Linked DNA regions of Homo sapiens. The protein of the gene in region 1 purifies or fractionates together with the protein of each later gene. This does not show direct contact. Each region holds a gene or a part of one and is shown on either strand. Other genes may lie near its edges.

Evidence for each region. The genes of interacting proteins can lie anywhere in the genome.
Region 2: the proteins of ZC3H7A (region 1) and BTBD9 purify together in Homo sapiens (affinity purification with mass spectrometry; one large-scale study listed by BioGRID and IntAct). This does not show direct contact.
Region 3: the proteins of ZC3H7A (region 1) and ACADL purify together in Homo sapiens (affinity purification with mass spectrometry; one large-scale study listed by BioGRID and IntAct). This does not show direct contact.

What each region holds. Positions count from the first base shown.
Region 1 is NC_000016.10:11,773,259-11,776,758, forward strand, and holds part of ZC3H7A (zinc finger CCCH domain-containing protein 7A), read right to left. Parts: coding exon 3,493-3,500; intron 3,275-3,492; coding exon 3,194-3,274; intron 3,101-3,193; coding exon 3,062-3,100; intron 2,696-3,061; exon of another isoform or gene 2,149-2,695; intron 1,756-2,148; coding exon 1,722-1,755; intron 1,262-1,721; coding exon 978-1,261; intron 1-977. UniProt on the Homo sapiens protein: May be a specific regulator of miRNA biogenesis. Binds to microRNAs MIR7-1, MIR16-2 and MIR29A hairpins recognizing the 3'-ATA(A/T)-5' motif in the apical loop.
Region 2 is NC_000006.12:38,637,130-38,641,156, reverse strand, and holds the start of BTBD9 (BTB/POZ domain-containing protein 9), read left to right. Parts: upstream 1-1,227; 5' UTR 1,228-1,357; intron 1,358-4,027.
Region 3 is NC_000002.12:210,204,948-210,208,447, forward strand, and holds part of ACADL (long-chain specific acyl-CoA dehydrogenase, mitochondrial precursor), read right to left. Parts: intron 850-3,500; coding exon 685-849; intron 1-684. UniProt on the Homo sapiens protein: Long-chain specific acyl-CoA dehydrogenase is one of the acyl-CoA dehydrogenases that catalyze the first step of mitochondrial fatty acid beta-oxidation, an aerobic process breaking down fatty acids into acetyl-CoA and allowing the production of energy from fats.

The DNA.
Region 1 (3,500 bases):
AGCCTCAACCTCCTGGGCGCAAGTGATCCTCTACCCTCAGCCTTCCAAGCAGTGGGACCACAGGCACGCACCACTATGCCAGGCTGTTTTTAATTTTTTGTAGAGATGTGCCCTTGCTATGGTTACCCAGGCTAGTTTCATATAATCTCCATATGTCACAAAATATTATTCTCTTTTTTGTTCTTCTCTCAACCATTTAAGAATTGTAAAAAATATTCTTAGTTTGCAAGCCATACAAAAACAGGTAATAGGCCAGATTTAGCCTGTGGGCTACAGTTGGCTGAACCCCGCTTTAAAGTATGTGGTTGCTAGAGGATTATCTTTAAGAATAAGAAGTCCTGAGGCCGGGCATGGTAGCTCACGCTTGTAATCCCAGCACTTTGGGAGGCCGAGGCGGGTGGATCACGAGGTCAGGAGATCAAGACCATTCTGGCTAAGGCAGTGAAACCCCATCTTTACTAAAAATACAAAAAAATTAGCCAGGCGTGGTGGCGGGCGCCTGTAGTCCCAGCTACTCAGGAAGCTGAGGCAGGAGAATGGTGTGAACCCGGGAGGCGGAGCTTACAGTGAGCCAAGACTGCGCCACTGCACTCCAGCCTGGGCAACAGAGCAAGACTCCGTCTCAAAAAAAAATAAATAAATAAAAAGAATAAGAAGTCTTTAATCTATATAATTCATTTTTTCTTAAATATCAAACGCCTATTTTTTATCAGAATGTTATCTTTGCCCTTTCCATAATATGAGATCCCAATATGAATTGGAAAAAAATTGGCTAATTACTAGATAGCATTCTTTTTTTATTTCAAAATGATCAAATTAACCAGTTTCAGTAGAGAAGAAAAAAAGTAACTTTCAAGGTTAAAAAAACCCCCAAATTCAGCCTATATGCAATACTGAAAAAGTCTATCAAGTTATATTACAATTTTTAAAAAGTTAACTCTGTCTTCAGAAGAAACTTGAGTAACACTGAAACTTACCATAACAGTTTCATTAGTTTCAGGTGCAGAATCAAGCAGGTCATCTAGTTCATCTCCAAGGACCATATCTCCATCATCTAGAAAAGCTTCTGGCATAGTGAAGGGCATCTTTCCTCCATTTGCCAGCACTGCAGATGGCAGAGCGCTCTCTTCCACTTGTAGTGGCAAAATAGAAGTTAAGGGCATAACAGGAACTGAGGCCAGCTCACTTCCAACTTCATGAGAAAAACTGGGTGCCGGTAAAGAGACAACAGGAACTGCTTCTTGCCTTGGAGTTAATAAATCTGTAACACAGATGGAAATGTACTCAGTCACTTTCATCGTACTTACATAATAATACCATTAATCCCCAATAATAGAGATACAAAGATGAAAATATGAAGGCAATTATAAAAATAATAAAATTGACAGTATAGTAAAGCAATTCCAAACAGATACAGTCACGTGTGAAAACTTATCCTTCTTTCACAAAATGCCTGTATCTCTCTTTGGGCACAGCTATCAGACAGTGGCAAGGCCACAGTGGGTGTCAGTGATTGCTTACTAACATCCAACACTTTTCAGTCACTCACTGGCACATCCAAAGGCACAAAGGGAGCATTGGAAATCATTTTCACTTTCATATTAATACATTAATATGAATATAACCACACAGCGATATTATTTGACAATACATCACATACAAAGACATCAGGTACAAAGCTGGCACTATTCAAATTGTTAAGATGATATGTGAAAACATACCTGGCTCAATATCTTCCACAGAATGGTTCAAAGCCTAGAAATTAAACCAAACAATGGGTTATAATATTTTCAGGACTCTAAGCCATAAAACAATCAGTAAAACTCACCCTAGGCCGGGCACAGTGGCTCACGCCTGTAATCCCAGCACCTGGGGAGGCCGAGACAGGCAGATCACGAGGTCAGGAGTTTGAGACCAGCCTGGCCAACATGGTGAAACCCTGTCTCTACTAAAAATACAAAAATTAGCCAGGCATGGTGGCAGGCATCTGTAATCCCAGCTACTCAGGAGGCTGAGGCAAGAGAACTGCTTGAACCCGGGAGGTGGAGGCTGCAGTGAGCTGAGATAGCGCCACTGCACTCCAGCCTAGGTGACAGAGCGAGACTCTGTCTTGGAAAAAAAAAAAAAAGAAAAAAAGAAAAAACTCACCCTAAGAGAACAATGCAGGTTTCCACAGAAATTCAACTCCCAATTAAGATCCAAGAAATGAATGGAACACGCAAACCTGTATACATGTGGTGTTAGGTGAGGTGCTGGTCTAGCAGTGCTGCCACTTATTTCTCGTGGACCAGCATTTCTCAAAGGCTATTCAGCAGAATAACAGGGATGAATTTGGCCACCAATCATTGCCCAACTCACAATAGCCATTAGCATCCTATTAGCCCCAAGAAAATTTTAATTTTAAAATTAAAAACAAAAACAAAAAAAAACCCTTTGTTAATTTTATCACAAATGACTCCCAAAACTAGTATTTGGCCCTGAACCACTCTTATTGCACTGAAACCTAACATCTATTAACATCCTATAAAATGCCCCACTGGAGCATTCAGGAAATGCTGGTTACAGCTAAAATATATTACTTGAGTTGTAGATGTTCTTTTGTAAAGTGACTAGAAGAGGCCAGAAGAGATGGCTCACGCCTGTGATCCCAGCATTTGGTGGGAGGCCAAGGCAGGAGGAACACTTGAGCTCAGGAGTTTGAGGCCAGCCTGGGCAACATGGTGAAACCCCATCGCTACAAAAAATACAAAAATTTAACAGGCCATGGTGGTGTGTGCCTGTGGTCCCAGCTACTCGGGAGGCTGAGGTGGGAGGATCACTTGAGCCCAGGAGGTGGAGGTTGCAGTGAGCCAAGATCAGGACACTGCACTCCAGCCTGGGCAACAGAACAAGACTCTGTCTCAAAAAAATAAATAAAGTGACAGGAGGGTATTGCCAATTACGTGTTTGAGGAATTAAAAAGGTTCCAAAAATAAACACACACCAAAAATACTAAAAGTAGAATTGCTCCCATCCTTCCCTTTAAAAAAAAATATAATTTTGACAGAAAAAATAACTTTACCTTGGTAGCCCCATCCCCAGGAACTGATTTTAATGAGAGCTGAAATAAAATAAAGACACTAATTTAAAAACAGAACTGACTCCAAGTTCTAAAACAAAATGAAAACACCTTATGCAGAGAACTCCAGCTTACCTCAGCTCTGACATACGCTTTTCTTATTTTAAATCCCAATTTCTGAGCTAGTTCTTGAGTTAGTTTTATTACATGCTCATCCTGAAAAAAATAAGTATGTATAATTAACAGGGTTATATTTACTAATGGTGAAGAAGAATAGACAAAACAGGGAAGTTTCCCATCAAGACACCTGCTTCATTAGCATTTATACCCAACTGAAGCAGGTTGATGGATGACTGGAAAATTTAACTCTTTAAATGCCATTTATTATGATGTAAATGGTTACGATGTAAACAAATAAACTATAAATTCCATACCTGAGGCA
Region 2 (4,027 bases), on another chromosome or scaffold:
GTGCTGTGAATTCTACCACCTTAATGGCGCTAACATCTATCCCCTCCTCTATTCCCACTGCCAATGCCTTGTTTAATGTTCTTATCACTTGTCTGGAGTACTGCAATGGCCTAAAAATGGGTCTCCCTGCCCCAAGCCTTGCTTTTCCTGACCATTTTCACTTTCTACTTTTACTCATGAAGCTTCCTTTGCCCGGAATTAAGTCCTTCCCAATTTGTCTCCTCCAACAACTGCAAGGGCGGTCCCCTAGCTTGCTCCAGCGTCGGGGATAACTGACTTTCCTACACCAGCTACAGTCAGACCTGCACCCGGATTTCTAGGACTCTTATCTATGTAGATAGATAAATACATTTTTTTGAGACAGTGTCTTGCTCTCACTGCAGAGGCTGGAGTGCAGCGGCGCGATCACGGTTCACTGCAATCTTGAACTCCCCAGGTTCAAGCGATCCTCCCACCTCAGCCCCCCGAGCATTTGTGACTACAGGCGCGCGCCAACATGCCCATTTAGTTTTTGTCTTTTTTGTAGAGACGGGGTTTCACTATGTTACCCAGGCTGGTGTCGAACTCCTGAGCTCAAGCGATCCGCCCACCTCGGCCTCCCAAAGTGCTGGGATTACAGGCTTGAGCCACCAAGTCAAATGGGCTTTATACTTACAAAGTACCTTTGCATACCTTATTTCATTTTCACCTCACAATTCTCCAGCGTAGGCTGGACCGGTATTATTATGCCCATTTACTGAGAGAGGAAACTGAGAGTCAAGGCTGGGCCAGTCACACCCTGCTGCGAAATTAACGAGCATCACTTAGCAGCCTCGACATTAACCGCGCTCGCGCTCTCATCCCTTTCTGGTCCTACTCCTTGGAGAACCTTCCTGCACCTCCAAGAACTTGCCGATCGGGTCTGCGGCGGTCTGGACGAGGTCACTCCACAGGCGCCCAGGACCTTCTCATCCGTAGTGACGTGCGCCGGTGACGCCATACAGTGACGTGTGGTGACTCGACTTACCCGGAGCCAGGTGCCGGCAGGGCAGCCACACCCTGGGGCCCCCTGTTCTGGAGGGGCAGAGGGTCGGGCCGATGCGAAAAAGCCGCGGAAGCTGCCTTAGGCGACTTTCTGGGCCTGCATCGCCGGACCCAGCAGCCCGCTGTCGATCGGTTGCTAAGTGACGCCAGCGCGCAGTGGCGCGTGCGCGGCCACGGCGGAGTGCGTGAAAGCGGACGCGCGCCGCAGCAGCCGGGGCGGCGGCGAGGACGGCGGCCACGGAAGCGGCCAAGGGGGCGGTGGCGCAGAGAGGGGTGCGGAGCGGGCGGAAGAGGCGTCTGTGTCGCAGCTTGGTCTCAGAGGAGCATCGCTGGGGTGAGTAGCCGGGTCCTTGCAGGGGAGGTGGGGCCTGGCCGCACCTGCGGCGCGGGGACGCGCGCCCCCGCCGTATCCGCGCGCACCGCCCCCCGCCCCTCCGCCGCTTTTTCCGGGGGCGGGGGAGGAGCTGGGACGGGGCCTGACGAGGGTCATTTCTTGGGCCCGGGTGCTCTGGGAGAGCGGTAGCCGTCCCGTTCGCAGTCCACGAAGGTGTAGTGGGAAGTAGACGTTTCGGGGATTCGGGGTGGCTCTACCAGCCTCCCAAAGAGAGGAGTTCGAATCAGGGGCAGCCCAGGTTCCCTAGCAGTCTCGTATCCTGTCTGAGACGACGTTGCCTGGGACTGAGGAGGCGAAACCCGGGACCCCGGGGTGGGGGTTTGGAAAGTTTGGGACTGCTGGGGCCCTCATCTCCCCTGCCCTGGCCAGCCTCTGAGTAGGAGCTGGTTGTTATGGAGAGAGTTGTGAATCAGTGCCTGCGTGCGGCATCAGACACACCCACGACCTTGGGAGGGCGACCTGTCAGTATAGATCCGGGGCAGCCAACCTGTTGCCTAGAGTTTCTAACTTCACATGTATGTGCATGTGTTTCCTTGGCGTTTTAGTACATTGTTGTTACAGATTTTGAGACCAAGGTGCTGATAGGCATCCTCATTTCTTACTTCCTCATAGACTTAGTTATCTTGCTATATTTCCCAGAACCGTGTTGTGCTTTTGTCATTAGTAGATCCAAGGAAGTATGGAAGCATGTTTTGTTTGTTTTTCCTAAAGGCAGTACAGGCTGCTATTTTCTGGGCAGAAAATACGGATTCTGTTCACTGTGTGGGCGGAAAGTGTTGATGATGGGAGAACCCAGCATGTAAAGGTGTAGCTCATCCTCAGCCCTGTGCTGTCTTCTCAGTGCTCTGGACTCTATCATGGGTAGATGTATAGGGGTTGTGGTTACCATACTTGGGAGCGAGGAATATTGGAGACAGGGAAGAAGCCAGTCTTTTCTTTCTGTTGATTAAGGCAATTTGTAGAACCAGTGAAAAGATAGGCTGTACTGAAATCTAATGTTTTGTGTAAGAGGATAGAGGAAAATAAGTTCAAGGTTCTCATTTAGGTCTAAAATTCTATGATTCTGTTTCATAACTGAGAATCTGTAAAGTATGTTACCTCTTGGAACCAGTAATAACCTTGCTTTGTAACACTTATTAGATTACTCGGAATTCAAAGTGTCTTCCTCCCTCCACTGTAATAGCTTTTAGGACAGGAGTCATCTGTGTTTTCCTCCTTGCCCTATGTCTAACACATAGGAAAAATGTGCTTGCCACAGAGTAGGCATGCAATGGATATTTGTTATATAGCACACTATGCTCAAGTGGTGTATCTATGTATAGAAAGCATTGAGTTCAGTCCATCAAGTACTTAATACATGTGCCTCCCTCTGCCCAGTATCATGATAGGTGTGGGAGGAGGATTATGGAGTGAAAAATGACATAGAAGACCTGTCTTTTTTTTCCCTTTGAGAGCAGTAGTCTAGCTAGGAGATGTATAAAATAATTATAAAACCAAGTTAAGTAGCAGGTAACCAGTGCTGTTTGAGGACTATAAATGTGGTAGAAAATCAGAAAAGATAGGATGTGTAGGCTGAGTTAGGGAACTCTTTGAAAGAGGCAAGATTTGACTTGGTCTCTGAAAGAAGTTAAAATTTGTTAGGAAATAAACCAGGAGCTGAGAAAATAATAATGTGAATTTGGTTGTTGGAGGATATACCAAGACGACTTTTATGTCTGGTAACTGGAGCGGAACGTCTCTTATAGGGGAATACTGGAGAGAGATGGCTTAGCAGGTTGGGAAGGCAAAGTGTTAAGGATTAAGGCGGGCTTATCAGCATCCCACTGTTAACAAGATACAGCCTTCTTGTAAGGTGGGATAGAGGTTGTATTAATCAGAGTACAGTCTTTGACAAGAATAAGTGTTATCCTTACTTGAAAGTAAAGGATATTACGCTTGAACCAATATCAGGTTGTTAATATACTTTTGATTTCAATTACTAATTGGAATCGATGCCTCACTAATGTGCATGTATTTTAGGTAGTCAGTGGTGCATGTCTCATTATCTAAAATCTACCTGATGTACTTGGGCCATTGTATTGGAAATTTACTGAAATGATGTACCAATAGTCATCCAGTCACACTCAGTGACATAGTTTTGCTTGGGATTATCTCTCTGAGGTTTGTCTTTACTGCTGATCCTGTAAAATATACAAATGTTAGTTGGGAAAGGAGTCTTTCTGATGAACGATGCTTAAAAATACTGACCAAAGAGATTTCAGAATAATTAAAGACCCTGCTGCTGAATATTGAACCCTTGGTCTTTATTTATAACATCTTCTGTTATGTGAAAATTCTTTTGAGTGGTATGTAAACCTGAAGTTGAATTGCTAACCAAGATGTGTAAAGTTACAACTGCAAATGTTGCATTATTTAACAACTCAGCAGATACTTACTGGGTGCTGGCTATGGCGAGACACTTCGTTGGGTGCTGGGAAGACAAAGAAGTTAAGACACAGTATATGCTCAGCATACTAAGTGTTCATCAGAAGAGATAAACCACTAACCATTATGTGCTGTGACAAATTAATCACTTTTGGAATGAATAATGTGCTGGGGGAGTAGAGTGCT
Region 3 (3,500 bases), on another chromosome or scaffold:
AGGATTTCTAATACATATTAAGCAAAACATGCATTTTTGGTAATGTATAGAAAGAACATTTTCTGGGTTTTTTTTGTTTGTTTGTTTTATTTTTTTTGAGACAGAGTCTCATTCTGTTGCCCAGGCTGGAGTGCAGTGGCGTGATCTTGGCTCACTGCAACCTCTGCCTCCTGGGTTCAAGTGATTCTCCTGCCTCAGCCTCCCGAGTAGCTGAGACTACAGGTGCCTGCCACCACACCCAGCTAATTTTTTATTATTAGTAGAGATGGGGTTTCACCATATTGACCAGGCTGGTCTTGAACTCCTGACCTCAGGTGATCCGCTGGCCTCAGCCTCCCAAAGTGCTGGGATTACAGGTGTGAGCCACTGTGCCTGGCCACACTTTATTTTTATTTCATATTTTTCTTTAATGCATTTTACAAATAGATGGCTTGTTACCATGCAGTTAATTTTGCCATTTCTAAAACAGATATTCAAAATACCTTGATTCATTTCTATTGCTGACCATCAGAAAGATAGAGTGGTATAAATGAGAATAAATCTCATTACCACATCAGAAAAGCATATTTTAGGAATTCAGCATAGGAAATAAAATTGTGCCACATGTAATCCTCTATGTAAGTCTCCTATCTGATTAACAGTAAACTCAATTAGTATCTGAATATGATTTACATTATCACTCACCTGGGCTTTTAATCCCATTTTATGTAGCTTTCGTCCCTTGATAAATCCTTTCATTCCATTTTCCACCAGAAAAAGGCTAATACCATGGGCAGGGGAGGGAGCTTCATGATTTGTGACCGCAACTACAATCACAACATCACTTAATGACCCATTACTGATGAACACCTGCAAAACCCCAAGTACATTATTAATGCACCATGATAATTCAATTCTATGTGCAAGTTATGATTGGGAGAAAGTATATTACAGAAAACTAAAACAGACAAGACATGCTTGATACCTCTCTCTGTACCCTACCCAAATATCTGCAAAGTTGATTATTCACACATGATGTTATCAAGGATCAGGGGAAAAATTACTTAATGCTTCAAAGAATGAAACCTATAGATTTTCTTTTCACTATTAATATTATACATAATAATAATAAACAGAGATTATTATGTTCTTTAAAAATGAAACCAAATTGTCTATTATGATGATAAATTGTATTTTAGAAGGAAGCCACTGATAAGAAAAGAAAATCTGGCCGGGCCCGGTGGCTCACACCTGTAACCCCAGCACTTTGGGAGGCCGAGGCAAGAGGATCATTTGAGCTCAGGAGTTCAAGACCAGCCTTGCCAAAATAGTAGAGACAAAAAAATTAAAAATTAGCTGATGTGGTAGTGTGCACCTATATATAGTCCAAGCTACTCAGGAAGCTGAGGCAGGAGGATCGCTTGAGTCCAGGAGTTTGAGGTTACAGTGAGTTATGATTGTACCACTGCACCCCAACCTGGGTGACAGAGTGAGACCCTGTCTCTAGAAAAAAAGAAAAGAAAATAAAAGAAAAATAAAAAGAAAGAAAATCTGCTGTAAATGGCACTATATTATTTATTCTCAGATTTATCAGTTTTTGAAAAGGACTATTTTTGATTTTTGTAATTGATATCCTGCTTCCTTTAAAATGGTCTAAATAGGAAACTATGATTAAGGAGGGAAAAATGACAAGCCAAATGAGAGGGATTATCAGATGATATTGATACAGAAAACAGTATACTCAGAGCAAATATTAATAATTATCTTCTCATTCTGCATCTTTCCTGGTTCATCTCAATCATTTTCACGGCTTGAGTCACCCTCTACATGCTGATGTCTCCAAATCTTTATTTAAGCCATGTTTCTTTTCTTTTTTTTAGAGACAGGGTCTCTCTCACCCAGGCTGGAGTGCAGTGGTGTGACCATAGCTCTTTGCAGCCTCAAACTCCTGGTAAGCCACATTTCTTGATAGGACCTGGACCTGAATAAGTACTTGCTTCTGGATAGTTCCACCTGATGACTCATGGGCAGGACATATTCCTTCCCACCCCTACTCCTATCCAATCCTGATTATCAACCTATTTCCCTATCTCAATGAATGCTTCAATAAATTACATTATCATCCTGCTTCATATTCAATTCAGCATCTAGTTTTTTCTAACCCATCTTAATACTTTTGGAATTTATTCACTTCCTTTCAAGTCTATTGTAATTACCTTATTTCCAGCCCTCATCATTTCTTAAGTTCCTACAACTGATCTCTCTACAGCTGTATCATTCATCATGATGTCAAAGAGATTTTTCTAAATGCAATCTGATCATATCACCTTCACACTTAAAAATTTTTGAATAGCTCCTAATAGGCTTCAGGATAAATTCAAAACCTTTAGCAGGAAATAGAAAACTTATCACAAACTGGCACTAGCTTACCTCTCCTTACCTGGCTTATTGCTTGTCCCACTTTCCCCAATTTCCTCTTCTTCAGTCAGCTCTACTAAACTACTTGCTGTCCATCACGTTGCGAGGTCTTCCTGACCTATGAGTCTTTGAAAATCTTGTTTCTGCTACTTGGGAAAGGCCCTTTCCCAACTCTGCTGCAATGAATTGTACTCATCCTGGGTGGTTTAGACATCAGATTGGCCAAAAGGTCTCAAATTCTCCAGGCTGGGTTAAGCGGTCCTACAACACCTCAAATTTACCAAAATGATCTGTTTTTATCTCTCTCTCTTTGAAATAGTAGGGGTATAAAATGATGTTGGTTACTCCCATCACCTAAAATGCACAGCACTGATACATACAAATAATGAAAAATGGGCAAATAATGTTAGTGTTGTCTACACAACAGCAAATGAATATAGTGGTGGCAGTATGGTTATAGGTGACACAATAATAAAAGATCATCAACGTGCCTCCTTACTAGGAGCTCATAGCCATTTCCTATTCATATATCTATCTTAAGTGCTTAGAATTCTTTTTGGCACAGAGGAGGCCAAAGGATGTTTTAAAAATATATTTTGAAAAAGATGTTCCTCAAAAAAATTCTATACAACTTGGCAAAAATATTTTTTCAACAGTATTGCTCCATTACACGACTCCCTTGCTCAAAAACCTTATAAGTCTACCAAGCTCCTACCTTTCTGTCTAGTTCCTAATGTCTGTATAGCTGCCACAGTTGAAATGCTATGAGTGCTTTTTTGTTTGTTTTGCATCACACAGCATCCAGGAATTAGTATCTACAGTATGCTCTCAAATGGTCTCATACATGTTTTAACTACAGATAATAAATAAACAATGGAATAGAAAGGAAGGGAGGAGAAATTCATTGGGCAAAAACTATTCATTTTAATATGCTGAGCTCAATTTGGTAAATCAAGTGGAGTTCTCCAGAAGTTCTTATTGGAAGTAATTATAGCAAAGGATTAATAAAATCTGAACCATTTCTACAACAGTGCGACCTAAAGTGAGTTTAAACACCATGGTGGATCCCCCTTTCTAATAGAGTTATATGAGAATTTTCCTTG